Linked DNA regions of Homo sapiens. The protein of the gene in region 1 purifies or fractionates together with the protein of each later gene. This does not show direct contact. Each region holds a gene or a part of one and is shown in the gene's direction. Other genes may lie near its edges. The genes, in order: KLRD1, SLC30A9, TMEM39B, GALNT11, LMBRD2, KIAA1586 and PRXL2A.

The links.
Region 2: the proteins of KLRD1 (region 1) and SLC30A9 purify together in Homo sapiens (affinity purification with mass spectrometry; one large-scale study listed by BioGRID and IntAct). This does not show direct contact.
Region 3: the proteins of KLRD1 (region 1) and TMEM39B purify together in Homo sapiens (affinity purification with mass spectrometry; one large-scale study listed by BioGRID and IntAct). This does not show direct contact.
Region 4: the proteins of KLRD1 (region 1) and GALNT11 purify together in Homo sapiens (affinity purification with mass spectrometry; one large-scale study listed by BioGRID and IntAct). This does not show direct contact.
Region 5: the proteins of KLRD1 (region 1) and LMBRD2 purify together in Homo sapiens (affinity purification with mass spectrometry; one large-scale study listed by BioGRID and IntAct). This does not show direct contact.
Region 6: the proteins of KLRD1 (region 1) and KIAA1586 purify together in Homo sapiens (affinity purification with mass spectrometry; one large-scale study listed by BioGRID and IntAct). This does not show direct contact.
Region 7: the proteins of KLRD1 (region 1) and PRXL2A purify together in Homo sapiens (affinity purification with mass spectrometry; one large-scale study listed by BioGRID and IntAct). This does not show direct contact.

The regions. Positions count from the first base shown.
Region 1 is NC_000012.12:10,309,908-10,314,369, forward strand, and holds part of KLRD1 (natural killer cells antigen CD94), read left to right. Parts: intron 1-1,556; coding exon 1,557-1,708; exon of another isoform or gene 1,709-1,712; intron 1,713-3,499; coding exon of another isoform or gene 3,500-3,502; coding exon 3,503-3,606; intron 3,607-4,462. UniProt on the Homo sapiens protein: Immune receptor involved in self-nonself discrimination.
Region 2 is NC_000004.12:42,069,895-42,074,356, forward strand, and holds part of SLC30A9 (proton-coupled zinc antiporter SLC30A9, mitochondrial), read left to right. Parts: intron 1-631; coding exon 632-797; intron 798-4,462. UniProt on the Homo sapiens protein: Mitochondrial proton-coupled zinc ion antiporter mediating the export of zinc from the mitochondria and involved in zinc homeostasis, zinc mobilization as well as mitochondrial morphology and health.
Region 3 is NC_000001.11:32,096,725-32,100,898, forward strand, and holds part of TMEM39B (transmembrane protein 39B), read left to right. Parts: intron 1-3,566; exon of another isoform or gene 3,567-3,717; coding exon 3,718-3,838; intron 3,839-4,016; coding exon of another isoform or gene 4,017-4,174. UniProt on the Homo sapiens protein: May protect the cells against DNA damage caused by exposure to the cold-warming stress and facilitates tissue damage repair during the recovery phase.
Region 4 is NC_000007.14:152,028,011-152,032,472, forward strand, and holds part of GALNT11 (polypeptide N-acetylgalactosaminyltransferase 11), read left to right. Parts: intron 1-4,462. UniProt on the Homo sapiens protein: Polypeptide N-acetylgalactosaminyltransferase that catalyzes the initiation of protein O-linked glycosylation and is involved in left/right asymmetry by mediating O-glycosylation of NOTCH1.
Region 5 is NC_000005.10:36,134,662-36,139,123, reverse strand, and holds part of LMBRD2 (G-protein coupled receptor-associated protein LMBRD2), read left to right. Parts: intron 1-1,682; coding exon 1,683-1,850; intron 1,851-2,604; coding exon 2,605-2,815; intron 2,816-2,900; exon of another isoform or gene 2,901-2,988; coding exon of another isoform or gene 2,989-3,072; intron 3,073-4,462. UniProt on the Homo sapiens protein: Recruited to ligand-activated beta-2 adrenergic receptor/ADRB2, it negatively regulates the adrenergic receptor signaling pathway. May also regulate other G-protein coupled receptors including type-1 angiotensin II receptor/AGTR1.
Region 6 is NC_000006.12:57,048,971-57,052,948, forward strand, and holds part of KIAA1586 (E3 SUMO-protein ligase KIAA1586), read left to right. Parts: intron 1-1,803; coding exon 1,804-1,884; intron 1,885-3,715; coding exon 3,716-3,978.
Region 7 is NC_000010.11:80,411,161-80,415,622, forward strand, and holds part of PRXL2A (peroxiredoxin-like 2A isoform 1 precursor), read left to right. Parts: intron 1-2,672; exon of another isoform or gene 2,673-2,713; coding exon of another isoform or gene 2,714-2,716; intron 2,717-4,462. UniProt on the Homo sapiens protein: Involved in redox regulation of the cell. Acts as an antioxidant. Inhibits TNFSF11-induced NFKB1 and JUN activation and osteoclast differentiation. May affect bone resorption and help to maintain bone mass.

The DNA.
Region 1 (4,462 bases):
AGCCTGAAACGAAAGATATGTTTCCTATATGAGTGCTCATAATTAAGTAACAAAAAATAAACCACAGGAAATGTTACAGTTAATCCTCATTACCTGCCTGAATTTGCTTATAACCTATACTTTTGCATCTCACTACTTTTCCTTTTCCAGAATATACTGCACAGATTTCTAAACCTTACTTATCCAGTGAAAGCCAGCTCAAAGTCCAATTTTCGTTTTTGGAGATGGAGTTTTGCTCTTGTCGTCCAGGCTGGAGTGCAGTGGCACGATCTTGGCTCACTGCCACATCAGCCTCCCTGGTTCAAGTGATTCTCCCACCTTCCTGCCTCAGCCTCCCAAGTAGCTGGGACTACAGGCGCCCGCCACCATGCCCAGCTAATTTTTGTGTTATTAGTAGAGTCAGGGTTTCGCCATGTTGGCCAGGCTGGTCTCGAACTCCTGACCTCAGGTCATCCACCTGCCTCGGCTTCCAAAGTGTTGGGATTATGCCGTACCCAGCAGAGCCACTGCGCCCGGCCTCAATTTTCTAAATATGTATTTTTCGGAATGCGCCCCAAGTTGTCTCACCATCATCTTGATTATATAGTGTTTATTTACAGTGCAACATCTTGGCCAGGCACAGTGGCTCACGTCTGTAATCCCAGCTCTTTGGGAGGCTGAGGTAGGCATATTACTTGAGGTCAGAAGTTCAAGACAGGCCAACCCCGTCTGTACTAAAAATACAAAAATTAGCCAGGCATGGCGGCACGCACCTGTAGTATCAGTTACTCAGGAGGCTGAGGCATGAGAATCACTTGAACCTGGGAGGCGGAGGTTGAAGGGAGCTGAGATGGTGCCACTGCACTCCAGCCTGGGCAACACAGCAAGACTCTGTCTCAAAAACAATTAAAAAATATAAAAATAATAGTGCAACATCTTCAGCACTACTTATATGGCAAAGATTTGAGTGCCTATGACGTGTCATGTTTTTATTACCGTGGGTAACAAACGTTGAAGACACTATTATTGATAAACTGTATAATTAAGCCTCAAGATAATTGGTTTATTTATATTCCCTTTTCAAAAATAAGATATCCAAACATATATCAAAATTCTCCAAATGTACCATATTCTTTTCTGACTCAGAAAGTATGCTAAAATGTTTTCCTCCTTTAAATCTTTTTCATCTAGTTAACTCCTATTTATGCTACAGTACTTAGTTTTGAGTCACTTCCTCAAAAAAAGGTTCTTGTAACTGCCCCTCATCTTACACTCTGCTACATGCTGTTTTAACATACTTAATTTTTTTGTACTTATCTAAATCATCACTAAATATCGTTAATAAATTATTGAAAATTATATAATTGTAATTCTATCTCTAGAATATAATCTCCATGAGGAAAAAGCATCATGTTCATGTCTAATTAGTTCACATTAGTAGCCCCTGAAGTGTGGTGTATACAGTAGATTCTGAATGTTAAAAGAATACACAGCAAATAATTTTTGAATAATTAAATAGCATTGAAAAAAATGTCTAGTCTCCAGTGTCATTAGTCATGCTTTATGTTTTCTGTCAGACTCTGACTGCTGTTCTTGCCAAGAAAAATGGGTTGGGTACCGGTGCAACTGTTACTTCATTTCCAGTGAACAGAAAACTTGGAACGAAAGTCGGCATCTCTGTGCTTCTCAGAAATCCAGCCTGCTTCAGCTTCAAAACACAGATGAACTGGCATGTGCTGAGTCTGATTTTCTACATTTTCTTTGATCTAGAAAAATATACTATCTAAACAAGTTAAATACTTTGGTTTAAGTCATTAATCACATAGTAAGTGGATGGTTATATTGGAATTGAGTTATCTGTTCTGTGTACCTTAAAGTAGTCATTGTAAAATCTTTATTAAATTCCTTAATGATTATATCATGGGAATACAAATCAAGATAGGTGCCAAATAAAGTGAAAGAAACTTTTCAGGAAGAATTCAAAGAAGATAATAGGTCATTATATTTACCCATTTTATTTGAAGAACCAACTAAATGACTGTGATTCTTAACTCTTTTAATTGAATTTATAATATCTTTTATAATTTTATAGTTTTTGTCATCTTTCTGGGATATAAGCTAGTATGGAAATATGGTAAGAAAACGTACCCAATTCTTTTCTTTTCTTTTTTTTTTTTTTTTTTTGAGACAGAGTTTTACTCTGTTGCCCAGGCTGGAGTGCACTGGTGCAATTTCAGCTCACTGCAGCCTCCACCTCCTGGGTTCAAGTGATTCTCCTGCCTCAGCCTCCTGAGTAGCTGGGATTACAGACACCTGCCACCAGGCCTGGCACTTTTTGTATTTTTAGTAGAGACAGGGTTTCACCGTATTGGCGAGGCTGGTCTTGAACTCCTGACCTCGGGTGATCTACCCTCCTTGGCCTCCCAAAGTGCTAGGATTACAGGCATGAGCCACCGTGCCTGGCCCTAATTACCCAATTCTTTTTTGTTTGTTTGTTTGTTTGTTTGTTTGAGATGGAGTCTCGCTCTGTCGCCCAGGCTGGAGTGCAGTGGCGTGATCTTGGCTCACTGCAAGCTCCTCCTCCCGGGTTCACGCCATTCTCCTGCCTCAGCCTCCCGAGTAGCTGGGACTACAGGCGCCCACAACCACGCCCAGTTAATTTTGTGTATTTTTAGTAGAGACGCGGTTTCACCGTGTTAGCCAGGATGGTCTCGATCTTCTGACCTCATGATCTGCCCACCTCTGCCTCCCAAAGTGCTGGGATTACAGGCGTGAGCCACCGTGCCCGGCCCCTAATTACCCAGTTCTTAAGAAAAAGTGCGGCCGGGCGCAGTGGCTGAAACCTGTAATCCCAGCACTTTGGGAGGCCGAGGAGGGCGGATCACAGTCAGGAGATCGAGACCATCCTGGCTAACACGGTGAAACCACGTCTCTACTAAAAATACAAAAAATTAGCCGGGCGTGGTGGCGGGCGCCTGTAGTCCCAGCTACTCGGGAGGCGGAGGCAGGAGAATGGCGTGAACCTGGGAGGCAGAGCTTGCAGTGAGCTGAGATCGTCCCACTGCACTCCAGCCTGGGCGACAGAGCAAGACTCCCTCTCAACAAAAAGAAAAAAGAAAAAGCGAAAAACTTCTCCTGCTGCACGTGGCACCTTTGCGGATTATAGGTTGAGTAGATTATACCCATGGGATTCCTCCTTCACAATACCATGATTTTGGAATCAAATTTAATCTTTGATCCCCCGTGAAGAAAGTGTTCCATGAAAACTCTATCTCCTTTTAGAAGGTTTTTAATTCTTCAGGAAGTGAGATTTTGTGGTATTTTTTCTCCATATATGAATGGGCCTGATAAATGAGAACTTTCAGTCTTGTGATTATACCTTTTAAATAGGAAGTTAAAAATAATTTCCGTTTGTGTGATGGACAGGCTGAATCTTATTCTAAACACTGACTTTCCCTCAAAATATGTTATTCCCAGAATAGATTAAAATTAGATTAATGTGATTGTCTTTTACTTGAAGCAGGATTTTATGAGCTCCAGTCAACAATTTTACTGGATTGGACTCTCTTACAGTGAGGAGCACACCGCCTGGTTGTGGGAGAATGGCTCTGCACTCTCCCAGTATCTGTAAGTTTCTGGCAATCATGGCGTTTTTTGCTCTTTATGAATTTGTCCTTAAATGTGACTAGTAAAGGTAACATCCAGGAGCACTGTGGCTGAAATAACCTTGTCTAGGGCATGAGAATACAGTAAAAGGAAAAAGTACAACAAAATAACAATTTTAGATCTAGGCAGATCTAAACCACTCTAAGTGTTAAAATCAAAACAGAAGATAATGCCTAATGAAAGGAGGTCGGGGTATAGGATAGTTGGTGCAAAAAAATACTGATAACCATTACATGCTTGCCTGTATTATTTTAAATTTTTTAATTAAAAATATATTATTTTGTAGTCACATGGACAACAAAACCAAAACATTACAAATCTCCAGAAAGTGCAATGCATAAGCTCTCTTAGTTCAAATTAAACATTTGAAAGGTATTATATTTCATCCTATATCTTTTGTCAGTTAACTGAAGTGCATTTTTCCTAAATCAATCTTCATACAAGAATGTGAAGAGGGCCAGGGATGGTGGCTTGAGCATCCAAGTTAATGCTCAAGTGACATGAAATTTAGTGTATTCGTGGCCATAAAAGAACTTTTAACATATGCTTTATTTTTGCCTTAGTACCAGCACTTGGAAGTATATGTGCATGTACAGATACTCATATACACAGAGGCAGTCCAAAAAAATAGTATATTTATTATTTTATTTATTCTGGTAGACCCCAATATTCTCAGCATGCTCTTATGTTTTATATACTATAGACTCATTGTCTGTATGTGTGTACTTTTTGAATCTCATTTTCATTTATAAACATGAGATTTGCAGCATCACACAGGGACAAAGTTTATGCTCTGGTTTGTTTTCCTAGACTAGAT
Region 2 (4,462 bases), on another chromosome or scaffold:
TCTGAGAATTTGCTTTTCTACCAAGTTTTCAAGTGATGGCTGCTGGTCCAGGAACCACACTTTGAGAAGCACCACCTTGAGGCACCTATGGCATGTAATGAATTAAGTTCTCTCCTTTTTATCTAGAATGATACTAGCTATATATCATCCTTGGTTGGATGAGAAGAGAGTCACCCATATTATTTTCTGTAGGGCTTAATTCTCTTACAGAACATTAGTAGGAAGAAGATACGGAAAAAGGTTTCTTTCAGCTTTTGATTCCACTGTTATTTTGTCTATCTGGTGTAGGAAAAGTGCTATGGATATATCTAAAAGAAATGGACTCTTCATTATGTCATTTTTTTGTATTGGTGTCTCTAATCTAAATGTGCTCAGAAACTTCACATATGTAATGACAGGTACAAGTAAGAGATCTTAATTATGTCACATAGTACTCTTATGAAAGCAAGTTGTAGCATCCTCATTTTGTGGTATATTAAAACTATTAGGAGTTGTTAAAGGAAGTAATTAAAGAAATTAGGAATAAATTTCAAGTGCCTTGATTTACTCGTTCTGGTTCTTTGCTCTCTATAAAGTTCACTGAAATAATATAAACTGTTAATTTACTGATTTTTTTATGTGCTTCATTTAGGCAATCCACTGTATGACAGCCTAGGTTCTTTGGGTGTGGGCACCTTATTAGGCATGGTCTCAGCATTCCTCATCTACACTAACACAGAAGCACTCTTAGGGCGGTCCATCCAGCCAGAACAAGTACAACGGCTCACTGAACTCCTGGAGAATGACCCATCAGTAAGGTCAGCCTTATTCCAGTAATCCTGTTAAGGCTTACAAAAACATATTAAAAAACAGAAATGCCTGGTTTGTAAATACTTCCAGAGGAAGTTTTGGATTCCTCGTCTTCAGAACGTTTTAGTCTGTAACTTTTCAGAATTATAATCCTGGAAGTAAGAAAGAATACACTTAGGAAACTCCTTCTAAGTTTCCTTTTAAATTTTCTATACTTCTAATTTTTAGAGTAAGGAAGAGTCAAGTTGATATAATGAGAATGGAAGTTTGCAAAGTAGTTGTCTTCTTAGTGGAAATACTTAATATGGAACCTGTAGAGTTGCCTTATATTCGCATTGCAATTACAAATTGAATATATTAAATTTAAAAAGATTTTTGTTCATTGGGCAATGATTACCAAATTAAATATAATTTATATTTACTTTGAAAATAGACTTTGTTTTAGCTTATTTTAAGTATTTTTCTTATAATCTTTATCTTTTAAATTATGTAAAACTAAAGAACTGGAGACTTAGGAGATAATCAGCAGAAGAGATACAGAATTCTAATAGTGCTTTTCAGTGAAATTCTAGCAGCATTGTGGTTTTATAATGAAATAAAAGAACAAACCTTTAAAAACCCAGTTTTCTACTAACTCGCTCTATATTTTTTCAAACTTTAAAATAAGATTTTTTTGTGTATTGTACTTGAAATCTTTAAGTTAAATCTTTTTAAAATGACCCGTATATCTGAATTAGTAAAATATATTAATGATTACTAGATTTATATTCTATGCCCTATATGTTTAATCTTGAAAAGTAACTATCTTATTGGAACAAGATTAGAAAATGAGAGATGGGCACAGTGGCACATGCCTATAGTTCCAGCTACTTGGGAAGCTGAGGCAGGAGGATCACTTGAGGCCACGAGTTTGAGGCTAGTGTGCAATGATCATGTCTGTGAATAGCCACTCACTGTACTATATTCTGGGCAGCATAGCAAAACCCTGTCTCAAAAAAAAAAAAAAAAAGATTAGAAGTTGAGCATTATGAAAGTCAGTATTAGAGTTATTAACATAATGTGAGATAATCCAAATTAATATCCTTTCTTTGTGATGTTTTTGTCTGGTTTTGGTATTAAGATAATACTGGCTTCAGAGAATGAGTTGGGAAATGTTCTCTCCTATTTTTTTGGAAGAGTTTGTGAATAATTGGTGTTAGCTTCTTTAAATGGTAGAATTCAAGTATCTGGATATGAGCTTTGCTGTGTGGGTAGTTTTTTGATTAGTAATTATATCTCTTGTTATGGATCTGTTCAGATTGTCTGTTTCTTCTTGACTTAGTTTAAGTAGCTTGTATTCTAGGAATTTGTCTTTTACTTCTAATTTACCTAATTTGTTGGTATACAGCTATTTATAATATTCCTTTGTAATCCATTTTATTTCTTTAGTGTTGGTACAAATGTCTCATCTTTCATTTCTGTAATTTGAATCTCTCCTTTTCTTGGTCAGTGTAGCTAAAGGTTTGTTCATTTTCTTGATCTTTCTAAAGAACCAGCTTTTGGTTTAATTGACTTTCTCTGTTGTTTTTCTATTTTCTTTTTCATGACTTTCTCCTTTAATCTTTATTATTTTTTTCCTTCTGCGTGCTTTCAGTTTAGTTTGCTCTTTTTCCACTGTCTTAAGGTTAAGCTTTTAATTTGATGTTTCTTCTTTTTTAAAATAGACAATTACAGCTACAAATTTTCCTTTAAGTATTGCTTTCTCTGCATTCCACACATTTCCATATATTGTGCCATTTTCATTATCTAATAGTATTTTCTAATTTCTTTTTTTATTCTTTTCAGTTATTTAGGGGAGTATGTCACTTAATTTTTACGTATTTGTGAGTTGCACAGATTTCTTTCCATTATTGATTTATTATTTTGTTCTATTGTGGTCAAAGAATATGTTTTATATTAGTTCTGTCCTTTTAAATTTACCAAGGTTTGTTTTATGGCCTTACATATAGTCTTGGATAATATTCATGTGCACTTGAGAAGAATGTATATTCTGCTGTTGTTGTAGAGTGTTCTGTAGATGTTTGTTAGGTTTAATTGGTTTATAGTGACTTCAATTTCCCTAATTATCTTCTTGCTCTATTGTTCTATCCTTTTTTTTTTTTTTTTTTTAGATGGAGTTTTGTTCTTGTTGCCCAGGCTGGAGTGCAGTGGCACGATCTTGGCTCACTGGAACCTCCGCCTCCCAGATTCAAGTGATTCTCCTGCCTTACCCTCCCAAGTAGCTGGGATTACAGGTGCTCACCACCATGACCAGCTAATTTTTGTATTTTTAGTAGAGACGAGGTTTCACCACTGGCCATGTTGGCCAGGCTGGTCTCAAACTCCTGAGAGACGAGGTTTCATCACTGGCCATGTTGGCCAGGCTGGTCTCAAACTCCTGACCTCAGGTGATCCACCCGCCTCGGTCTCCCAAAGTGCTAGGTGTGAGCACCGTGCCCGGCCTCTGTATCCGTTACTGAAAGTATCGAAGTCTCTAGTTATTGTTGTTGTATTAGCTCTTCCTCCCTTCATTTCTTCTTGGTTTTGGCATCATATATTTTGGTGCTCTGTTGTTGCTACATACATGTTTATAATTTTGTATATATTGTTTAATAAGTAATGTCTAAAAAAGAGCTATAAACTGAAAGACTGGCAAATTCGAAATTTTGTGGAAGAGTGAATATCTGTGGATTCAATTATTGGAAAAAATACGTTAGTAATCCAGAAAATTCATACAATTTTTTTAAACAGTATATTAGTTACCTACTGCTGTGTGACAAATTGGCCCAAAACTTAGTGGTTTAAACAACATATTACCATCTTACAGTTTCTGTGAGTCAGGAATCAGGGCACAGCTTATCTGGGTCTTCGACTTCAGGGTTTCTCATAGACTGTAATCAAGGTGTTGACTGGGATTATAGTCATCTCCTGGGGAAGGGGCTGCTTCTAACCTTACTCACATGATTGTTCGCAAGATTTAGCTCCTTGCCAAATGGGCCTCTTCAACATGGCAGCTTGCTTAATCAAAGCGTGCAAATTGATAAGGCAATAGAGAGCGAGTGTGAACAAGACAAAAGTCACAGGTTAGTCACCTGGTCTTGGAAATGACATCTCATCACTTTGCCATATTTGGTAGTTATAGCCCACATTCAGTGAGAGGAGATCACACAAGGGCTTGCGTATAGGTGGCAGGGATTGATCATATGGGAGCCCTCCAAACAGTTTTCTGTCTGTAGTTAGTTATATGTAAGAACATAAGGAAAAAGTATATCTAAATATATTTATTAGTTGCTACTCACATACCAGCCAAATAATGAAATGTGTTTATACTCTGTGAAGACTAAAGTAGAAATGATTTTTGAAAATGAATAAATATGTTCTGTGAGTTACCAGGAGAGAAAAAAAAAAGAATAAATGATATAGCCTTTTGCCAATCTGAAAAAGTTTTGTTTTAACTTGAGCACATGTAACTATAAATATTAAAACATTAATTCTTATTTCATCCTTGATGGTTGATTAAAATATAGCTTCCTTATATGGATAAAAAATTTTGGACTCAGTGTTTAGTAACCTGCTCAGGATCCCTCAGAAATTAGGGTCTAATGTTGTAAGAATACTTGGAGTCTTACGTAGGCTTGTTTTTCTAGTAAATCTC
Region 3 (4,174 bases), on another chromosome or scaffold:
TGCTGGGGTTACAGGAGTGAGCCACTACACTTGGCCTAGGCCTTTCTTTTTAAGGTAAAATTTCCATACAGTGAAATGTGCAATCCTTTTTTTTTTTTGAGACAAGGTCCCACTCTGTCTCCCAGGCTGGAGTGCAGTGGTGCAATCACAGCTCATTACAGCCACAACCTCCTGGGCTCAGGTGATCCTCCCACCTCAGCTCCCAAGTCGCTGGGATTACAGGCGCATGCCACCACATCCAGCTAATTTTTGTATTTTTTTGTAGAGACAAGGTTTTGCCATGTTGCCCAGGCTGGTCTAGAGCTTATGGGCTCGAGCGATCCACCCACCTCGACCTCCCAGAGTGCTGGGATCACAGGCATGAGCCACTGCACTTGGCCTACAAATCTTAAAGGGTACAATTCTTTCAGTTTTGATAAAGGTATATATACTCATGTAACCCACCCCTCATTCAAGATATAGAACATTTCCAGCCCTTCAGAAAATGTCCTCATGGCCCTTCCCAGTGATCCTTCCCCCAAGACAAACTACCTTTCTGTTTTCTTTCACGAGAGGTTAGTTTTGCCTGTTGTAGAACTTAATATAAATGAAATCGTGTCCAACTTCTTCTTTTTTTTTTTTTTTGCTACAGAGTGTCACTCTGTCACCCAGGCTGGAGTGCAGTGGCGCGATCTTGGCTCAGTGCAATTTCCGCCTCCCAGGTTCAAGCAGTTCTCCTGCCTCAGCCTCCCGAGTAGCTGGGATTACAGGCGTGCGCCACCATGCCCAACTAATTTTTTGTATTTTTAGTAGAGATGGGGTTTCACCATGCTGGCCAGGCTGGTCACGAACTCCCAACCTCGTGATCTGCCTGCCTCAGCCTCCCAAAGTGGAACTGGGATTATAGGCGTGAGCTGTTGCACCCGGCCCCAACTTCTTTTTTTTGTTTGTTTGTTTTTGAGATGGAGTCTCGCTCTGTCGCCCAGGCTGGAGTGCAGTGGTGTGATCTCGGCTCACTGCAAGCTCCGCCTCCCAGGTTCACACCATTCTCCTGCGTCAGCCTCCTGAGTAGCTGGGACTACAGATGCCCGCCACCGCACCTGGCTAATTTTTTGTATTTTTAGTAGAGACAGGGTTTCACCATGGTCTCAATCTCCTGACCTCATGATCCATCCGCCTCAGCCTCTCAAAGTGCTGAGATTACAGGCGTGAGCCACCGTGCCCGGCCCCCAACTTCTTTTATTCAGCATATTGTTTGTGAGGTTCATTCATGTTATGAGTCGCACAATAACTTTTCTTTTTTGTTTTTTGAGACGGGGTTTCGCTCTTGTTGCCCAGGTTGGAGTGCAGTGCTGCGATCTTGGCTCACTGCAACCTCCACCTTCCGGGTTCAAGCGATTCTCCTGCCTCAGCTTCCCGAGTAGCTGGGATTACAGGCCTGTGTCACCATGCCCCGCTAATTTTTTTTTGTATTTTTAGTAGAGACGGGGTTTCACCATGTTGGCCAGGCTGGTCTCGAACTCCTGACCTCAGGTGATCTGCACACCCTCGGCCTCCCCAAAGTGCTGGAATTACAAGTGTGAGCCACTGTGCCCAGCCAACTATTTTTTTTTTAAATGAGTGAGTCAGCAAGGCAAGAGCATTGGGTTGAGAAGGGGGCTGCTTACAGGCTGTGACTTGCAGTCCTCTGGTCCAGGCCCTTGGGATTCCTGGGAGATCTCACAGGACATTATAAGAAAGCTCACTGGGCCAGGTGCAGTGGCTCACGCCTGTAATCCCAGCACTTTGGGAGGCCAAGGCGGGCGGATCACGAGGTCAGGAGATCGAGGCCATCCTGGCTAACACGGTGAAACCCCGTCTCTTCTAAAAATACAAAAAAATTAGCTGGGCGCAGTGGCGGGCGCCTGTAGTCCCAGCTACTCAGGAGGCTGAAGCAGGAGAATGGCATGAACCTAGGAGGCGGAGCTTGCAGTGAGCCGAGATAGAGATAGCGCCACTGCAGTCTGGCCTAGGCGAAAGAGCGAGACTCTGTCTCAAAAAAAAAAAGAAAGCTCACCGGTCCTAGCATTTCATTCACATGCTCACTAGGGCCTCTCTGTGCCAGGCCTTGCGGCATGCTCTGAGGACACAGGGATGGATTAGATCCTCCCGCTCAAGGGCTCTCAGCCTAGTGAGGTATACAGATGGGAAATAAATAGATGACCAGCATTGGGGAATGTGGACTAGTAGCAGGAGATGCAGGGAACAGTTAAAGGATGCCAAATGGGCCAGGCACGGTGGCTCATTGCCTGTATCCTAGCACTTTGGGAGGCCAAGGCAGGCAGATCACGTGAGGTCAGCAGTTTGAGACCAGCCTGGGCAACATGGCGAAACCCCGTCTCTACAAAAAATACAGAAAAATTAGCCGGGCGTGGTGGCAGGTGCCTATAGTTCTGAGGCAGGAGAATCACTTGAACCCAGGAGGTGGAGGTTGCAGTGAGCCGAGCGCCACTGCACTCCAGCCTGGGCGGCAGAGTGAGACTCTGTCTCAAAAAAAAAAAAACACTCATAGGTTGGAATTGAACAATGAGAACACTTGGACACAAGGTGGGGAACATCATACACCAGGACCTGTGGTGGGGTGGGGTGGGGGAGGGATAACATTAAGAGAAATACCTAATGTAAATGACGAGTTAATGGGTGCAGCACACCAATGTGGCACATGTATACATATGTAACAAACCTGCATGTTGTACACATGTACCCTAGAACTTAAAGTTTTTTTAAAAAAATAAAAGGATGTCAAACTCTAGGGAGTTTGAGAAAGGCTTTGTGGAGGAACCTGGGTTTTGAAAGATGATGAAGAGCTTACCAGAAGGATTAGGCTTTGGGAAGGGCAATCCAATTGGAGGGAGCAGCTTAGGGAGAGACGTGAAGCAGTACAGAGTGCTGGAGGAACGAGAAACAGCATGAGCTGTGTGGTGAGGGTTGTGGGAAGCCACACAAGACCTCAGAGGCCATGTCAAATCCTTGGGGCCTTGACCCCAAGGGCACTAGGAAGCCTTCAAAAGGTTTTAAGCAGGACCAGGCGCTGTGGCTGACGCCTGTAATCCCAGCACTTTGAGAGACTGAGGTGGACAGATCACCTGACGTCAAGAATTCGAGACTAGCCTGGCCAACATGGTGAAACTCCATCTCTACTAAAAATACAAAAATTAGCTGGGCATGGTGGCAGATGCCTGTAATCCCAGCTACTCTTCAGGCTGAGGCAGGAGAATTGCTTGAACCTGGGAGGCGGAGGTTGCAGTAAGCCAAGATTGTGCCACTGCACTCCAGTCTGGGCGACAAGATCGAAACTCATTCTCAAAAAAAAAAGCCCACAAAGAGTTTTAAGCAGAGGGTGGTCAGGCTGAGCTTAGTATTTTACAAAGACCACTCAGACAACTGTGTGGTGGACCACTTGGAGGCAAGAGGTGAGACCAGATGAAGCAAAGGGACCCAGAGAGGAAGAAGGGTTCTCTCAACAGTCTCTTAGTAATTAATGTCAGCCCTAGACCACCTAACTCACAGTACAGTGAATTCCTCATGATTCTTACCCCATTTTACAGAGGAGGCAACTGAAACCCAGAAAAGGAAAGTCAGCGTGTCTAAGTGATAGAAATGGGAGTAGAGCCCTGGTGATTCCCTCCTGCCCATTCTTCTGGTATCCCTTTTGTGGGTGAGCTGGGGATAAGGGGCACCATTGAACTGTGCCCCCAGGTGGACTGAAGAATGCATGTGGCCGCAGGGCGTGCTGGTGAAGCACAGCAAGAACGTCTACAAAGCCGTAGGCCACTACAACGTGGCTATCCCCTCTGACGTCTCCCACTTCCGCTTCCATGTGAGTCTCCTCCCCGGGGAAGGAGGGTTGGGGCCTGAGAGGGTGGGAGGATCTGCAGGGCAGGAATGTGATGTCATTGCAAGAGAAAGCTATTTTCAGTATTTCCCCAATCCAAAGGAAGACAGTGCACACATGTAGCACAAGGACAGCCATATAAATTGTCACTTAATAACTGCAGCTCGGCCGGGCATGGTGGCTCACGCCTGTAATCCCAGCACTTTGGGAGACCAAGGCAGACAGATCACCTGAGGTCAGGAGTTCAAGACCAGACCAGCCTGGTCAACATGGTGAAACCTCGTCTCCACTAAAAATACAAAAATTAGCCAGGTATGGTGG
Region 4 (4,462 bases), on another chromosome or scaffold:
GGTTTGTGGTCTCACTGACTTCAGGAGTGAAGCCACAGACCTTCACAGTCAGTGTTACAGCTCATAAAGTTAGTGCAGACCCAAAGAGTGAGCAGCAGCAAGATTTATTGCAAAGAATGAAAGAGCAAAGCTTCCACAGCATGGAAGGGGACCCGAGCAGGTTGCCGCTGCTGGCTCCAGTGGCCTGCTTTTATTCCCTTATTTGGCCCCACCCACATCCTGCTGATTGGTCCATTTTACAGAGAGCTGATTAGTCCATTTTAGAGTGCTGATTGCTCTGTTTTACAGAGTGCTGATTGGTCTGTTTTACAGAGTGCTAATTGGTCGGTTTTTACAGAGTGCTGATTGGTGCGTTTACAAACCTTTAGCTAGACACAGAGCGCTGATTGGTGCATTTACAATCCTTTAGCTAGACAGAAAAGTTCTCCAAGTCTGCTACCCAGTTAGCTAGTCACAGAGCACTGATTGGTGCATTTACAATCCTTTAGCTAGACTGAAAAGTTCTCCAAGTCCCCTACCCGATTAGCTAGACACAGAGCACTGATTGGTGTGTTTACAAACCTTTAGCTAGACACAGAGCCCTGATTGGTGCATTTACAATCCTTTAGACAGAGTAGTTCTCCAAGTCCCCACCCGACCCAGAAGCACAGCCAGCTTCACCTCTCAATCCCCCCCCTCTAAACAGGACACCCCAACTGCTGTTGGGAATTTGGCCAATGACTGCTGTAGCTACTTCCTGCTGGATAGGGGTGAAGAAGGGGCCCTGCAATTGTAGTGTCCTCCAGAGGGGAACTCTTTAGGCCAGTGAAAGGGCCAGCAGGTTGGTCCAGGGGTCCTGGTAGAAGTTTAGTTGAGCTCATTTGGAGTTCCATTTGTAAGACCATCTGTAGCTTGATGGTCTCAATTCTAGAGGAAACAAATTTGAAAAGGAGGTTAAAAATACAGGGCCCGAAGGCAAGTAATAGCAAGATGGCTGCCACAGGACCTAGAAAGGGGAGAAGCCATGTTGTCCAACTCCAGAGGTTGGTGTAAGAGTTTGAAAGGCGTCTGATTTCAGAAGCCTTTTCCTATAAATGTTGGGTGGCATCTCATACTATCCCTGACTGGTTAGTGTAAAAACAACACTCTTCCCCTAAGAAGGTGCAGAGTCCTCCTTTCTCAGCAGTGAGGAGGTCTAGGCCTCGGTGGTTTTGGAGAGTCATTGCTGCCAAAGAGTCTATTTGGAATTGTAGTTACTATCCTTACTGGATAGATTTTGTTATTTCTTGCAAACTCTCTTGAGAAATCCTTTGAGAGTGTGGTAGTAGGATAATGAAGTAGGTAAACTGGCTATTCCAGTTCCTGTAGCAGTGGCCATTTCTAACCCTATAGGTAGGGGTATTAGTTGTATGGCTCTGCACTGACGGACTTGAGCTTTGAGGGGTACTGATAGGGTCTGATTTCCACAAGATTAGAAGTTAGAATAATATATGTTTACACTGTTAACTTTTAGCAAACTTTACTTTTGTTGAAAACCTTGTAAGTTTGGGATTTCAATTATTCTTTGCTATTAATAAGACCTCGTTCAGTCCATATTAACTTAGAATTGATATAGATGGCTCCTTCCTGATTCTGTAAGTACTTTAAGGTTTGGCTGAGTGCAAACAGCTCGCACATTTGAGCAAACCAATTATTAGGCAGTTTTCCTAACTCTGCTTCTACAGTTCCCTTATCATTTACTGAATACCCCTTGTGTCTTTTTTCCTTAATCACCCAGGAGGAACCATCTATGGTCCTGTCCTGAAGGGAGTTCCTCCTAGATCTGGTCGGACCTTTGTATGGTAGTTAGTTAAGATTTAGATCCCCTGTTAGGAAACCTGCTGGGTTAAGGATTTTTGATAGGAAGGCTATGGGTTGTCAGTGGCCTCAGTGCTTTTGGGCTACGCCCTTGTTTACACTGACAACAAGGTGGTATTGGAGTGTTACAGAGTTACAGAGAAGGCCTTCAATTATCAGTTATAGGTTTTAACTTTACTGTGGCTTTTAAAGGAATAGGGTGTAGGGTCCAGCCCCACAGGGTCGGTGGGTTTTTTCCCCGTGTGCGGAGACGAGAGAGTGTAGAAATAAAGACACAAGACAGAGATAAAAGAAAAGACAAGAGGTAGAGGAGTAGAGTCTTCTGTAAACTCCCACGGGGAAAGGGAGACTCCCTTTCCTGGTCTGCTAAGTAGCGGGTGTTTTTCCTTGACACTGATGCTACCGCTAGATCACGGGACGCTGGTGTTACCACTAGACCAAGGAGCCCTCTGGTGGCCCTGTCCGAGCATAACAGAAGCCTCAACTCTTGTCTTCTGGTCACTTCTCACTATGTCCCCTCAGCTCCTATCCCTGTATGGCCTGGTTTTTCCTAGGTTATGATTGTAGAGTGAAGATTATTATAATATTGGAATAAAGAGTAATTGCTACAAACTAATGATTAATGATATTCATATATAATCATCTCTATGATCTATATTTAGTATAACTTCTTATTTTATATATTTTATACTGGAACAGCTCGTGCCCTCAGTCTCTTGCCTCGGCACCTGGGTGGCTTGCCGCCCACAATAGGGTACACTGTTTTTTCTTTACTACTTCTATCTCTCTTTCTCTTTGATGACTTCTTTGTCTCTCTGAGTCCCTCTTTGTCTGTCTCTTCCTCTCTCTCTTTGCCTTTCTATGTCTCTCTCTCTGACTCTCTCTTTGTCTCTGTCTCTTTGACTTTGTCTCTTTCTTTCTCTCTGACTCCTTTGTCTCTCACTTCCTCTCTCTGTGTCTCTCTCTGATTTTCTGTTTCTTTCTCTCTTTCCTTTCTGCTGGTCTTTCCCTTCCTCTGCCAGCCACTTATGCTGCTGTTCTCCCCTCTCCTTCCCGTTTTGATGGCTTTGGCAGTGTAAGACTGCCACCTCCTTGGGTTTTTGCACTGCATGCAATAACTCCATGGTTTCCTTGTGGTATTTAATGGGGGTTCCCCCAGAGGTTAGAAACTCCCTTTCTTTCCATATTGCAGCACAGGCATGTAGGATTAGATAAGCATACTTGCTACCTGTATACACATTTATTCTTTTTCCCTTTCCCAGTTCTAAGGCTCAGGTAAGTGCCACTAGTTCTCCTGACTGGGTGCTGGTCCTTGGGGGAGGAGGCTTACTTTCAAGTACGGTTACGTCACTAACTATGGCATAACCTGCCCTTCGTATCCCATTCTCCACAAATGAACTTCTGTTGGTATATAGATTAAGGTCAGGATTAGCTAAGGGGACTTATAAGAGGTCATCTCAGGCAGCATAAGTCTGGACTATAATTTGTTGGCAGTCATGCTCGATTGGTTCCCCATCCTCTGGGAGAAAAGTGGCAGGGTTGAGGGCCACGCATGTATGTATTTGAAGCACCGGTCCCTCAAGGAGTAGTGCCTGGTATCTAAGTAGGTGGTTGTCTGATAGCCATAAACTCCCTTTGGCACTTACTATGCCATTTACATCATGAGTAGTCCAGACAGTGAGATCCTTTCCTTGTATTATTTTGATAGCCTCTGACACTAGGATGGGTACTGCTGCAACTACCCTTAAACAGTGAGGCCAGCCTTTTGCTACTACATCAATTTCCTTACCTAGGTGTGCCACCAGTTGTCAGACACGAGTCTGAGTAAGGACTCCAAGAGCTATCCCTGCTCTCTCTGTGATGTATAAAGAGAAGTTTTGTCCTGTGGGAAGGCTTAAAGCTGGAGCTTGTACTAGGGCCTGCTTTAAGGTTTTGAAGGCTGTTTCTGCCTCTGGTTCCCATTCTACTAGATGAGTATTTGCCCTCTGGGTCTCCTTGATTAGAGTATAGAGGGGCCTGGCTATCTTGCTCTATCTGGGGATCCATAGTTGGCAAAAGCGGTGATTTGAAGGAACCCCCACAACTGTTTTAAAGTCTTAGGGTGAGGATAAGCCAGTATAGGCTGTATTCGTTCCTTGCCAAGGGTCCTGGTCCCTCTGGCTAAGATTAGGCCTAGATATTTGACCTGCTGTAGGCAAAGCTGGGCCTTTGACCTAGATGCCTTGTACCCTTGATTAGCTAGAAAATTCAAGAGATCTAGAGTAGCCTGCTGGCATGAGGCTTCCGAACTGGTAGCCAAAAGTAAATCATCCACATACTGAAGGACCAGAGTGCCTGGACTTGAGAAGTGGCCTAGATCTTGGGCCAGTGCCTGACCAAACAGATGAGGGCTATCCCTAAACCCTTGGGGCAAGACGGTCCATATAAGTTGGGATGTGTGGTCTGTGGGATCCTCAAAGGCAAAGAGAAACTGGGAGTCATGGGAGTCATAGTGCAGGGGAATACAGAAGAAGGCATCCTTGAGGTCCAGAACAGGGAACCATTCTGCTTCCTCTGGTATTTGAGAGAGCAGGGTATAGGGGTTGGGTACAACTGGATATAGAGGAATTACTGCCTCACTGATGAG
Region 5 (4,462 bases), on another chromosome or scaffold:
TCCCCGAAAGTGCAGGGATGCCTGGGTCCACAGCCACAGCTGGGCAGCTGCAGCTATGCCCAGAGCAGGGCTCCTGCCCCGCCAACTCGGAAGGGGGTGGGGCTCCCACCTCTTCCCAGCTCCTGCTAGCTCCATGGAGTGCACAGTCCCCGCCAGTCCCCCCACACTGCGGCCAGCAACTTTGCTGGGGGCCACTCCAGACAAGCTGCTGCTGCCATCACTTCTTCCTAAAATATGGATCCATCCCCTTCAGCTCTTGTTACATACTTGTAGCTTTCAATTTCAACGAAGCATGCACATTTCTCTCATCTTTTGAAAAGAAAACAAACAAAAATGAAAGTCTCTCAATTCAGATTCCTTTCCAGCTTCTGCCTTGTTGATCTGATCACAACTAAATTTTTTTAGAAACTTTTTAAAATTGAAGCATAAGTTCGTACCGAAAAATGCATAGATTGTGTTTAGTTTGACTTTTTTCAAAGTGAATACACCCATACACCAGCACTCAGATGATGTTATAGAACATTAGCAATGCCCCCAGAAGCCTCGCTCACGCTTCCCTGTGTAGTCATCCCGCACTCCCCAGAAGTAACCATGATTCTGACTTCCGTCACCATAGATTAGTTTTTGCCTGTTTATGAACTTTATAAGCATAGAATTATACATTGTGAACTTTTTTGCATCTCTCTTTGCTCACATATTTGGGAAATTCATCTATGCTGTGCTGTATGTATCAGTATTCTGTTCTTTTCCATTTCTGTAACATACCCCATTATATGTATATGCCATAGTTTATCCTACCCAGCCAAACTTCTTAAATAAATTCTCTATATTTGATATCTCCACTTGCTCATTGTTTACTTATTTCTTAACCATAGTACTCTGCTTTCTATTCTCCTCCACTTATACATACAGGTTCTTAATTTACTTCACCTCTTGGCGGCATTTGATTCTCTCTCTCCACTTTAACTTTCCTCTCCTAGTTCCTAATCCATATGCTCCTTGGTTTTCTTCCTTGCCCCACTATTGTTCTGTCTCAGTCTCTTTTGCTGGTCTACCCTCCTTCTGTTCTCTACCTCTCTTAAAAGTTGATATTTCTCAGAGTTCTGTCTCAGTTCTTTCCTTCACATTCTCCATACTCATTCTTACAGTTGAGTATCTACTGATGTTATTTCACTGCCATTGATACAGTGATGACTTCGGAAGCTATCCATATTTTTAGTCCGCTCTCCTGAACCCTGAAGCTGGGTTTGTGTGCAGCTCCTCTTGGATGTCTCCTAGGTACTACTTCAAAGTCAGTATGCTGTCAACTGACCTTCTCCCTTTTTGCTTCTTACCACCATCATCACCCTTCCCCCTCCCAACTAGTTCCAATTTTGTTCCCCTTTTATCCATTCTCCGTGTGAAGCCTTAGGAAACTAAAATTTGATCAAAAATGTTTTCTTTGAATGTAGTCCAGACTCTTCATAAAGGCTTTAAAGACCCATTTGCTTTCCCTAAAATTTTATATTACAAAAATACTCAGTCATCTATTATAGTTATTAAGTATTCATGATTACTTATAAACATTTATTAATGAGAAGACCTATTCATTAAAATTGAGATTCATATATTTCTGGCACTTTGAGATTATACAGACATATCAATTATTTGGGTTTTTAATCATATTTTTTCTATCCATCTAGGATTCTCTTACCTTTTATGCAGTCATATGCAAGATCAGGAGGGTTTTCCATCACTGGAAAGATCAAAACTGCACTAATTGAGAATGCAATCTACTATGGCACCTATTTGCTGATTTTTGGAGCATTTTTAATTTATGTAGCTGTAAACCCACATTTACATTTAGAATGGTAAGAAAAGTAGTCTTCTTAACATTGCTTTAATGTATGTTTGCATTTTTAAAAAATCATTTTTAATTTCATATGTGCAGGTAAAAAGACATTTCATTGAGAAATATATTGTTACATATTTTATGGATTTCCCCAAAAGAATATGTGAATAATCCATATTACTAAGAAAATATGGAATGACATCTTTAAATATAGATTTTAGGCAAAAGATTAATGATTAGTCTAATGGCTATATATTAAAAGTAATAACCCTTATGATTTTTGGATAGAATTTCAAAATTTTTATGATAAAATAACTGGTTTTATTTTTCATTGGAACTTGTGATTTTTTTTGTTTTGATTATAATTTGAAGGCATATTTGTTCTTAATGTTACCTTGGATTTAGATATTTCAATAAAATTGAAATCTGTTTTATACTTATGATTTGTAATATATGTGAAGGTCTACATCTGAAAATTTAGGAATAGATCAGCAGTGCTAGGTCTCACTATTGTATTCCTGAGATTTGCTAGGTCAGCAACACAGGTTAATTTGAAACATTTTCAAACTTCTTTTGTTTAATATAGAATAAGAAATCACCTAATGAAAAATGTTTCCTTTGGGAAAATATATACATATTATTGCCATGAATTATTCTAGATGCTAATTTTAACTGCAGTAGAAACAGTGTCTCCTGTGTTAAAGTCTATTTATGCAGTCGCATTTTATCTTTCCATTAAAATATACATATTATCTGTTGTTTCCCTTTCTTAGGAACCAGCTTCAGACAATTGGGATAGCTGCTGCAAATACATGGGGTCTGTTTCTTCTTGTGTTGTTGTTGGGGTATGGCTTGGTGGAAATTCCTCGATCATACTGGAATGGAGCAAAAAGGGGTTATCTACTTATGAAAACGTATTTTAAGGCAGCCAAACTGATGACAGAGAAAGCAGATGCAGAAGAGAATTTGGAAGATGCCATGGAGGTAAGCAAGTTTGAACCTTATAAGCAATAGTCACTAAGTCATATGTATCCCCTTTTAGTCATTTTTGGTTTGTTGTTGTTGTTAGTGCATTGATGGGCTTCAGACTGCAAAACTGGTGTTGTGCAATCCTTCAGGATGTCTCATCCAGGATGACTTTTTAGCAGTTCAGCCTCATGATGTGTCTTGTCCATCTTCTGTCTGACAGAGATTCATGGAAAATATATTCAATAGTGCAGGGCTACGCCTATTATTTTGAGGTAACTTTTAATAGTACCCTCTTTAATTTTCAAAAGTCTCCGAGATTAAATGATAAATTGTATGGTTACCCTAACATAGTAGAACTGAGAATAATGACCAGAGGACACTTATTTCCGAAAGGTTAACCTAAGGTAATCCCACCAATTCTGGAAACCTCTTTAAAGAACAATTTGCATGGGAGTTTGTATTGGTAAGTTTTGTTTCCTATCTGTAATCTTAATAAGACACTTCATTTTACTTGATGACTTAACCTAGTTTCACAAAGTTGTTGAAAGTATAACTTTCAATACTGTACATAAAAATATACAACAAATTATAAAATTTTTCTGTGTTAAATAAAAATTTTGTTATGGATTTAAAGAGATTATTGTAGTCACCTCACATTTTTGCTTCCCAGGGAAAATATGCTACTCAGCTGATGATACTCTCCAAATTAAAACTCCTGTTGAAGGCTTTTCATTCATGTTAGAATAAACTCCAAAATGTTTTAATGCAGCCTACAGAAAAATAATTTGGCCTATGTTTAGCTCTCCAGCTGTATCCCAAGCCTCTATTTTCTTGCACTGGTCATCTTTGGTTTCTCAAACTTGCTAATGTTGATGAAATAATAAACAATTCTATAGACTTAATATTTACCTAACACTCAACTTTCGTTCCTCAAACTTAGTAATGGTGATAATTATAGTAAACAATTATATAGACTTACTATTTGCCTAAGAGGGACTTTCTAAGCACTATACATATATTTAATTCTCATGACTTTATGATAGAGATTTTTGTAAATCCCCATTCTATAAATGAAGAATATGAGGCACGGAGAGATTAAGTAACTTTCTCATGTCTACATGGCTAGGAAGTGATAAGAGCCAGGCAGTCTTGCCTTAAACAGGGACTGACAAACTTTTCTGTAAAGGGCCAGATAGTAAATATTTTAGGCTTTGTGTGCAATGTCATTTCTATTGCAACTACTCTGTCATTGTAGGATGAAAGCAGCCATAGCCAGTAAATAAATGAATGAGAGTGGGTGTGTTCTAGTATGAGAACAAGTAGTGGACTGAATTGATCTGGCTTGATGACCATATGCTTAATTATTACACACATTGTCTTTCTTTTCTATCTTTGAGCATGCTATTCCCAAACTATTAGAATGCTCTTTTCAGCACTCTCTTCAGCTAATTCCTATTTCATTTTCAAGTCTTAACATAAATGATAATTCTTCAGGGAAGCTTTATTAGCTTCCTAGGACTGCTGTAACAAAACTACTACAAACTGGGTGGCTTAAACAATAGAAAATATTGGCTCACAGTTCTGGGGACTAACGTTCAAGATTAAGGTATCTGCAGGGTTGGTTCCTTCTGAGGGTTCTAGGGAAAATCTGTTCCATGTTTG
Region 6 (3,978 bases), on another chromosome or scaffold:
TTTAAAACTCTTACTTTAAATTTTATTTTAAATATAAAGATCCTTCTACATCTTTTCATACAATATTTTGTATATCCAGCGTGATAGAACCCTTTATATTTAACCCTGTTCAAAATAGAAGATCAAAGGTTTGACAGCTCTTATATGGAGAAGTGAATTACATGCTGTCAGTGTAATTGCAGTACCAGAAAGAATGTAGTAAAACATCCCTGTTGCATTTCAGTGGTGCCACATAAAAGACAATGATAACTTAATTCCACTTTGAAATACACTCAGAGACAACTTTCCTTTGTAACCCCATCCTATACTGGGCTCTACCAGGATATGCTTATTTCTCTGTGTTTTTTATAGTACCATCCAGTAAAGATGCAATGCTGCTGGGTATAGTTCTCTGCTTGTGGGTTCTTCAGATTAAAAGAAAAAAAAGTTTGTTACTTCTTGATATATTCTGGTTTGGATTCCTTAGTCTTTTCATATAAATGTTGATTATCTAGCCTTCATTCTGCGTTGTGGCACAGAATCCTCTTTGTGTTCTGTCATGTACCTAGCCTCCAAAATAAACAATATGCTGAAAGAAAGGAATGATAAAAGATTTGGGGATACAAAAAGAGTCCTTATCTTAATGTAAATTTTATTGAAATATAGTACCTATACAGGGAAGGTTACTTCCTCCTTGCCATCACTATTTTTGTACCACATTACCATTTGTCTAGATTGATTATCTTGTTTGTATTCTTCCCACATGCTCTCTTATGTGGTTAACCTTCTTGAAACAGCTCTAATAATGTTCCCATCTTGATGTTATTTATTGATTCCTTTGCCTACAGAATAAAATCTAGGATTTTGACTAGGGCATTTATGGCCTGGTCTATGATGAGGGTAGTGTATATGTAAAGAAAGGATCAAGAAGACTCAGAGTTTGATGTTTGGCTGTACAGTGATGTGGAGGATAAAGCAGGGTTATCAAAGAACTTCGAGATTACTGATAATCATTTCAGTTAAAAAAAATTGTACTATGAAATCTGTTATCTTTTTTTTTTAATGAGGTAGGGCCAGGGGGTGGGTTTTTCACTATGTTGCCCAGGCTGGACTTGAATTCCTGGGCTCAAGTGATCCTCCTGCCTCAGCCTCCTGAGCAGCTGAGACTGGCACTGTGCCTAACTGAAATCTGTATCTTTTTAAATCAATATCTGTGCTATTTCCCATTTTGAAAGGAATCTACATGGCTTTATTCCTCTATATAGATTTAGGCTCTTTGGGTTTTGTCATTATTATGTTTTTTTTTTTTTCCTTTTTACTAGCAGGAACAGTATTACGTATTCATGTACTCTGACTCTTTTCCCATGCCTCTTTTTTTTTTTTAGACAGTGTCTTGCTCTAAATTTTATCTAGGCTAGAGTGTAATGGCATAATTATAGCTCACTGTAGCCCCAACTTCCTGGGCTCCAGTGATCCTCTCACCTCAGCCTCCCAAGTAGCTGGGATTACAGGTGTGAGCCACCGTACCCATCTGATTTTTTTTTTTTGTAGAGTTGGTGTCTCACTATGTTGCCCAGGCTGATCTTGAACTTCTGGGCTCAAGTGATCCTCCTGTCTTGGCCTCCCAGTGTGCTAGGATTACAGGTGTGAGCCACTGCTCCCAGCCCCTTTGCCCGTTTTGTTTCTAATTATTCTGTGCCACTTGCAAGATTTTCTCGAGAATCTTTCCCAATTCCAACTAAAAAAATCTCCCACTGATTGTTAAATTTAAGTTTAATTGGAATGATTGTTCATGACTTGTAAATTTGCCCACTTCCTTTTTAGGAAGGACCATCGAGACCTGTTCTTGAATACATCGATCTGGTCTGTGGTGATGATGAAAACCCTAGCGCCTATTATAGTGATGTAAGCACATTATATTTGTGTTTGTTCAGTTTTCTTATTAAGTGCAATAGTGTGTTGGTGGTAGCTTGAACTGGATCATAAGAACTAATTGTTGGCCAGGCACGGTGGCTCTCGCTTGTAATCCCAGCACTTTGGGAGGCCGAGGCGGTTGGATCACTTGAGGCCAGGAGTTCGAGACCAGCCTGGCCAGCAAGGTGAAACCCCCATCTCTACTAAAAATACAAAAAATTAGCCGGGCTTGGTGGCACATGCCTGTAATCCCAGCTACTTGGGAGGCTGAGGCAGGAGAATCACTTGAACCTGGGAGGTGAAGGTTGCAGTGAGCCGAGATCATGCCATTGTGCTCTACCCTGGGCAACAGAGCAAGACTCCTTCTCAAAAAAAAAAAAAAAAATCTAATCGTTAAACTTTCAGGAATTTTGTGAGCTGATTGTAAACATAACAGTTATTACAAATTAAAGTATATAAATGCACAAGTACATAAATGATCATATTTAATACATCATTTCCTACTTAATACATCATTTCCTACTATCTGTGCACTTGAGGTTATTTGCATCTATTGGTAGAAATACTATTAATACATAATAGTGTCCTGCTGCAGTATTGATAGAACATTACCCCATTGTAATCAGTAAAATACAAACTAGAATTTGATTTATTATTTGTTGATTAAACTTAAGAAAGTGAAGGATAGAATGTTAATGCAGATTAAATTTCAAAGTGTGATGTGTCTCTGCTAGACTAAATGCAATACAAAAAAATTGAGGAAGTTGCTTTGCAATATTCCAAAACTCGGCCAGGCATGGTGGCTCACACCTGTAATCCCAGCACTTTGGGAGGCCAAGGCTGGCAGATCACTTGAGGTCAGGAGTTCGAGACCAGCCTGCCCAGTATAGTGAAACCTCATCTCTACCAAAGATACAAAAACTAGCCGGGCGTGGTGGTGCATGCCTATAGTCCCAACTAATTAGCCAGGTGTCGTGGCACGTGCCTGTAATTTCAGCTACTTGGGAGGCGGAGACATGAGAATTGCTTGAACCCGGGAGGTGGAGTTTACGGTGAGCTGAGATCGCGCCACTGCACTCCAGCTTGGGTGACAGAGCGAGACTCCGTCTCAAAAAAAAAATTTTTTTTTAAACTCTTCATTAGTTCGGAAAGATGTTGATGTCATTGATGAATGAGCGAAACTCTAATATATGTCTTTATTGTTTCACTTTCATCTTATTCATTAATGTAATTGAAAATATTATCCACCCTTCATGTTGCTACTACAGTCAGCCCTTCATATACTGTGGGTTCCACATCCGTGGATTCACCCAACTGTAGATGGAAAATATTTTTTTAAATAATAAAAATACAATAATAAACACATTAAAAAGTAATACATTATAAAAACTTTTATGGCATTGATATTATATTAGGTATTAAAAATAATCTAGAAATGACCTCAAGTATAGAGGAGGATATGCAAAGGTTGAGTGCAAATACTTCATTTTATACAAGGGACTTGAGCATGGGAGGATTTTGGTATGGGGAGGTGCAAATAGCATACTCATTTGCGAAACATATGACCAACCATTTTGCTAATTGGATGATAATTCATAGTCAAATTTTGTGAAACTGTTGTTGGTTGTAGAATTTTAAAAACTAATAGTGGGTTTTTCAAGAAATAGCAAGTCATATTGATATTATAGATATAAACTGAAAATCAGGTTAAATATTTAAGTTTAAAATGTATTTCCAAAATTAGATAATCACTAAGAGAACTTTTTACATTGACCCTTAAAGTGTTATGAATTTTACTTACATATGTAAAATTATTTTTCAGATTCTGTTTCCTAAAATGCCAAAACGACAGGGTGATTTTTTGCATTTTTTAAATGTGAAGAAGGTGAAAACAGACACAGAAAATAATGAAGTGAGCAAAAATCACTGCAGATTGTCTAAGGCAAAGGAACCACATTTCGAGTATATTGAACAACCAATCATTGAAGAAAAGCCATCACTTTCATCAAAGAAAGAAATAGATAATCTTGTGCTTCCAGATTGTTGGAATGAAAAACAAGCATTTATGTTTACAGAACAATACAA
Region 7 (4,462 bases), on another chromosome or scaffold:
GTGCCTGCATCATCAGTATGCTAGACAAGGATGGACAGAGTCTTGTTATTGTGGGGAAGAGAGGTGCAGAATGGCTTCTCAGCGGAGACTAGGCAATGAGACCCTTAAGACATTTGGCTTCAGATTATAAGCTGCTTACCAAGGATTGGGCTTGGGAGAGGCTGATGATGTTCTCTCCAGGCAGCAGATTTCCCAGGCCCTGTTTACGGGCAGTCTTGCTCTTAGCTTGCCTGAGGCCAGTGAACAGGCTTCAAGACCTGCAGGGCCCCACTTCCTGAGCCCAGACTGCCATGCTATTCCAGCCTTAGAGGCCACTGGCCCTTGGCTGGCTGCCCAGGACCTAGCGTGTCTGATGCAGGATAAACAGTCATGGACTGGAAGTTGGGAGACCCAAACCTGAGTCCCAGTGCAGCCACTGACAACCTGCCCTGCCCATGTGACCTTGGACTAGCCAGCTCCTTCTCTGAGCTTTAGTTTCTTCATTTGCTCAGTAAAATGAGCTGAACCAGCGCTTTGAGGGAAGGAGAGGGAAACAGAGGAGACCAGAGAAGGAAGATGAAGCATCCTTTCAAGACTTGTTCACTGAGGGCCTGAGGCAAGGAGGCCCATGTGCACTCTTAGTTTTTTGTCTCCCTCAGCACCTTTTCTTGCTTCTCCCCTATCTCTGCCTCAGGCCAGCTCATTCTGAAGAGGGACGATTCCCTGGGTGGGGCTGGGCTGGGCAGGTGTACCCTTGATGTTTAGAATATGATGCTGTCTCTACTTGTTTCAGACATGATTTAACTCAGCCAGTGCTGATACTTTGTTTCATTAAGACTTTATCAGTTCCTGCCCAGAGGCAGCTCCTGGAACAGTCAGGAGTTAGGCCCAGCAAAGGAGGCAGGGTGAATGTGCACACCCAGCAGAAGAACAGTGGTGGCAGGGGTTCCCATGGCTTTCTAGACATCAGATCCCTGTAGTTGCAGTCACATGGTACTTTAGAGTCTTTGGATGTCAGAGCTAAGACAACCTCATAGAATTTTGAGTTCCTTCCTCTGTATAGATGATGAGATCCAGGCCCCGAGTGTCTTCATACCTTAAGTCAGATTGCCCTGCTAGTGAGCAGTAGAGCGAGGACCCAGCCTAAGGTTACCTAAGTCCCAAGCTAGAGTGTTTTCTTTAATATCAAGCCAGCCCTGTCCAAAATTGCCTTTCATACTGAACTGAAATTGGAATTGAGTAGTTATAAGTTCCAAGTCTGCCTCACTGTGGAATTCTAAGAGTAAAATTCAGATAATTTAATTAACATTTAATGCCTGATAATTACCAGGATCTGTGTTGAGTGCTGGGGATGCAGGAATGAAGACGACAACACATTGTGCCAACATATTGTGGAGACAGACATGTAAATAACTAAAATTTACACAATTCATTTGTGCATTGTGCAGGGTTATGGGTGTGTGCGCACACACATGCACGCTATAGAAGAGGTCAGTGAGCAGTCAGTTGTCAGGGCTTTCAGGAAAGGCTTTGGAGAGGAAGTGTTATGTGTGCTGGGCCTTATGAATAAGTAGGCATTTACGTGGTTGGCCTGGGTCAGAGGGGGGCATCCCGGGCAAAGGAAACAACATGAGCAACACTTGCTGAAGCCAAGCTGTGGAGGGCCCCATCAGCTGGCTTGCTGAGGAGTTTATTGTTAGTGAGAGTCTGAACACAAGGGAAAGGTGTAATCAGGTGGGGGTGTGCTGGGATCGCTCTGACTACGGCTTGGAAAATAAACTATAGAGGACCAGACTAGAACCAAGCCAGATTCATTCTGTGGTTCTTGAAATAGGCTAGGGACAGAGTTATAGGATCCTGGGTTTGGGCAGCAGCAGTGAGGTCGAGAAGAGGATGGGTAGCAGATACATTTTAGAAGATGGACAGAACTTCCTGAGTCGATGTAGGCAGTGAAGGCAAATGAACAGTAAAATGTGAACCCCTGTCCCCCACTGTCCCCCCTCCCTGCCCCCCCATCTACTGAGCCATGGAACTCCAGCAGAGAAATCGACTTTAGTTTTGGATGTGGTACAACCAAGACACCTACAAAACCCCCAAGTGGAAACTTTGGGTCAGAACAGCAATAGGAACTTGGAAGTCAATAACAAAGTGGTGGGAGAAGTGCTGGAAGTCACCCAGGAAGGGAGTGTGGGTTGAGGGAAGCCACCGATGTGGCAGAAAAGGAAGGGAAAGCAAAAGGAGGTAAAGAATAGACAGCAGATGAGGGGCCTCAGAGGTGCCAGCTGACTTTCCAGGCCTGGGGTGAGGAATGGGGCAAGGGAGCAGGCTGCACGAGGAGCCACAGAGAAAAGGACATCTTCTTTTATTTGCGCTAGTATGACATGTGGGCTGTGTTACGAGCTTTGCTTCTTTAGTCTGCACCGGATAGCAGAGGAGTCTGGTGGCACTTGGGAAATGTTATAATCTGCATGACTGCAAATGACTCAAAGCTTTGCTCAACTTTTTGAAGGGCTAGGGGGCCTTGGCAGCTTTCCATTTAGATGTTTTCTGGAGACTGACTGTTGGCAGCTGAAGGAGCCCCAGGGTTTCTGGGTGGCCTGGTCCTGCCTATGGAGTGACTGAGCCTAGGGACCTAGTCCCGCCTCCAGCCCTCCCCTTGCCGCCTGCCCAGGCCCGTCTGCTCACCCCTGGATATACTTCTTTGTCAAGAGAAGCAGAGGTGTGGACGCTGTGTATGGTGAGTGCCTTGTTCCCAAGTTTGAAGCGTCTGAGGTTGGGGGTAAGAGACCGTTTGAGGAAGGGAGTTGCCTTGTATAGGAAAGAGACAGGGTCTCGAAGCTGGAAACTGAATTTGGGGCGGTGGGGGCAGTGTTGAGGAGCCTAGAATGTTCTGACTCCAAAGTGACCTGTTTTTGTTAGACTCATAGGATGTCACTGGGGATCATTAGGAACTTCCTCATGGAGTTGAGAAAAATGGGGCCTGGGGAGGAATTGATTCAGCTTAGCCTAGGGAGCCCGACTGGGTCTCGTCCTCTTGCACCCATGTTCAGACCAGAGCTGCCACTCTGAGCTGCCACAGCTGTTGTTTGTTTGTGGCTTTATCCTACTTCACCTTCTGTGGGAGAGGGTGGATCAGATAAGCCCAGCAGTGGGGAACTGAATGCTATAGCTGTGTCAGGTGGGGGCTGGCTCTTCTGTAAACAACCCTACTATTCTGTTTCAGAGAAACTGACCCTTTCCTTAATGGAAGGGGGGATAGAAAGGGGGAGGAAAGAGAAGGAACATCTGGTGTATGGTAAATTTCCTTTAGAGTAAACATGGTTTGACTGTACACGATGACTGAAAAAACAAGGTGATTAAAAACACATTCTCTTTAAGACAGAGGGAATCATACTCCTGGATCTCCAGGACCGACTTCTTTCTTCTTTTCTTTGTTAATCAACAATTACAGCAGATGTAAACCCACTTCTGAATGTGTGGCGAGGAAAGGTAGTCTTTCAGGCTTTGGAGTCCTATTCCTGTTGACTTGGGTCCAGGTTGTAGTACTGCTGCCTGCTGGCTCTGTGACACAGGGAAGTTACTGAACTCTGAACCTCAGTGTTAGCTGCTAAACAGGATAATCTTTGCATCACAAGACTGTTGAGTGAATGAAATTAGGCCATTACTGACAGCTTCTAAGACGACTGGCTGCAGAGGTACGAAGGATTGCTGGCCTCCATACCTCTGCAATCTTAGAGACCCATGTGAAAATGCATCATTTCTGTTTAGAAATTAAAATTCCTTTGATTGTCCTTTTTTGTGTGTAGGAAAAATTGTGATTTCAGAATTCAGGGTCTGCTCACTGTGCAGCAAGTCACAGTAGTACGTGCTTCAAGACATGCCAGGATGGGAGTTGCTTTGTAGCCCAGGGGACTTGGATAAGAGGCTAGGCCTGTGTGCTCTCCAGGTATTCCTGGAAGTGAATTTTCTGTGCTTCTCTCTGGCACAAGAGTGGGCTGCTAGAGGCCCACTGGGTGCGGTCTGTCCATGGAGAGGCCTGATGCTCACCACTGGTCCTGATAACACTCTCAGCATGGTGCTGCAGTGCCTGAGGATGGGGTCCACTGCCCCAGAGGGCTGAATCTCTGCTCACACTTTCAGGATCACAGTGGGAGGTCAGAAGACAGCACTTATGGGGGTTTTGAGGTCTGGATCTTGTACCCAGCCCTTGAACTTGAGGTATGGAGATGGGGGTCTTTGGAACATAGAGGTTTGAGTTCTCAGGGTTCCTTCAGCACTGACACCTGCCCCAGTCAGCCTGCTGTCTCCCAGCTTAGCTGGCCCCATCCCAGCCTAGCCTGTCCATGCTGCCTCCTGTGTCCTACACCGGCTCCAAAGCCACTTCCTTCTGGGTGCTTCTGTGGCTACCCAGACTGGCTGTTATTCCTGCACCACCATAGCCTCATGCCCATACATTGCCCAAGCTGCCTCACCTTCCCACTTG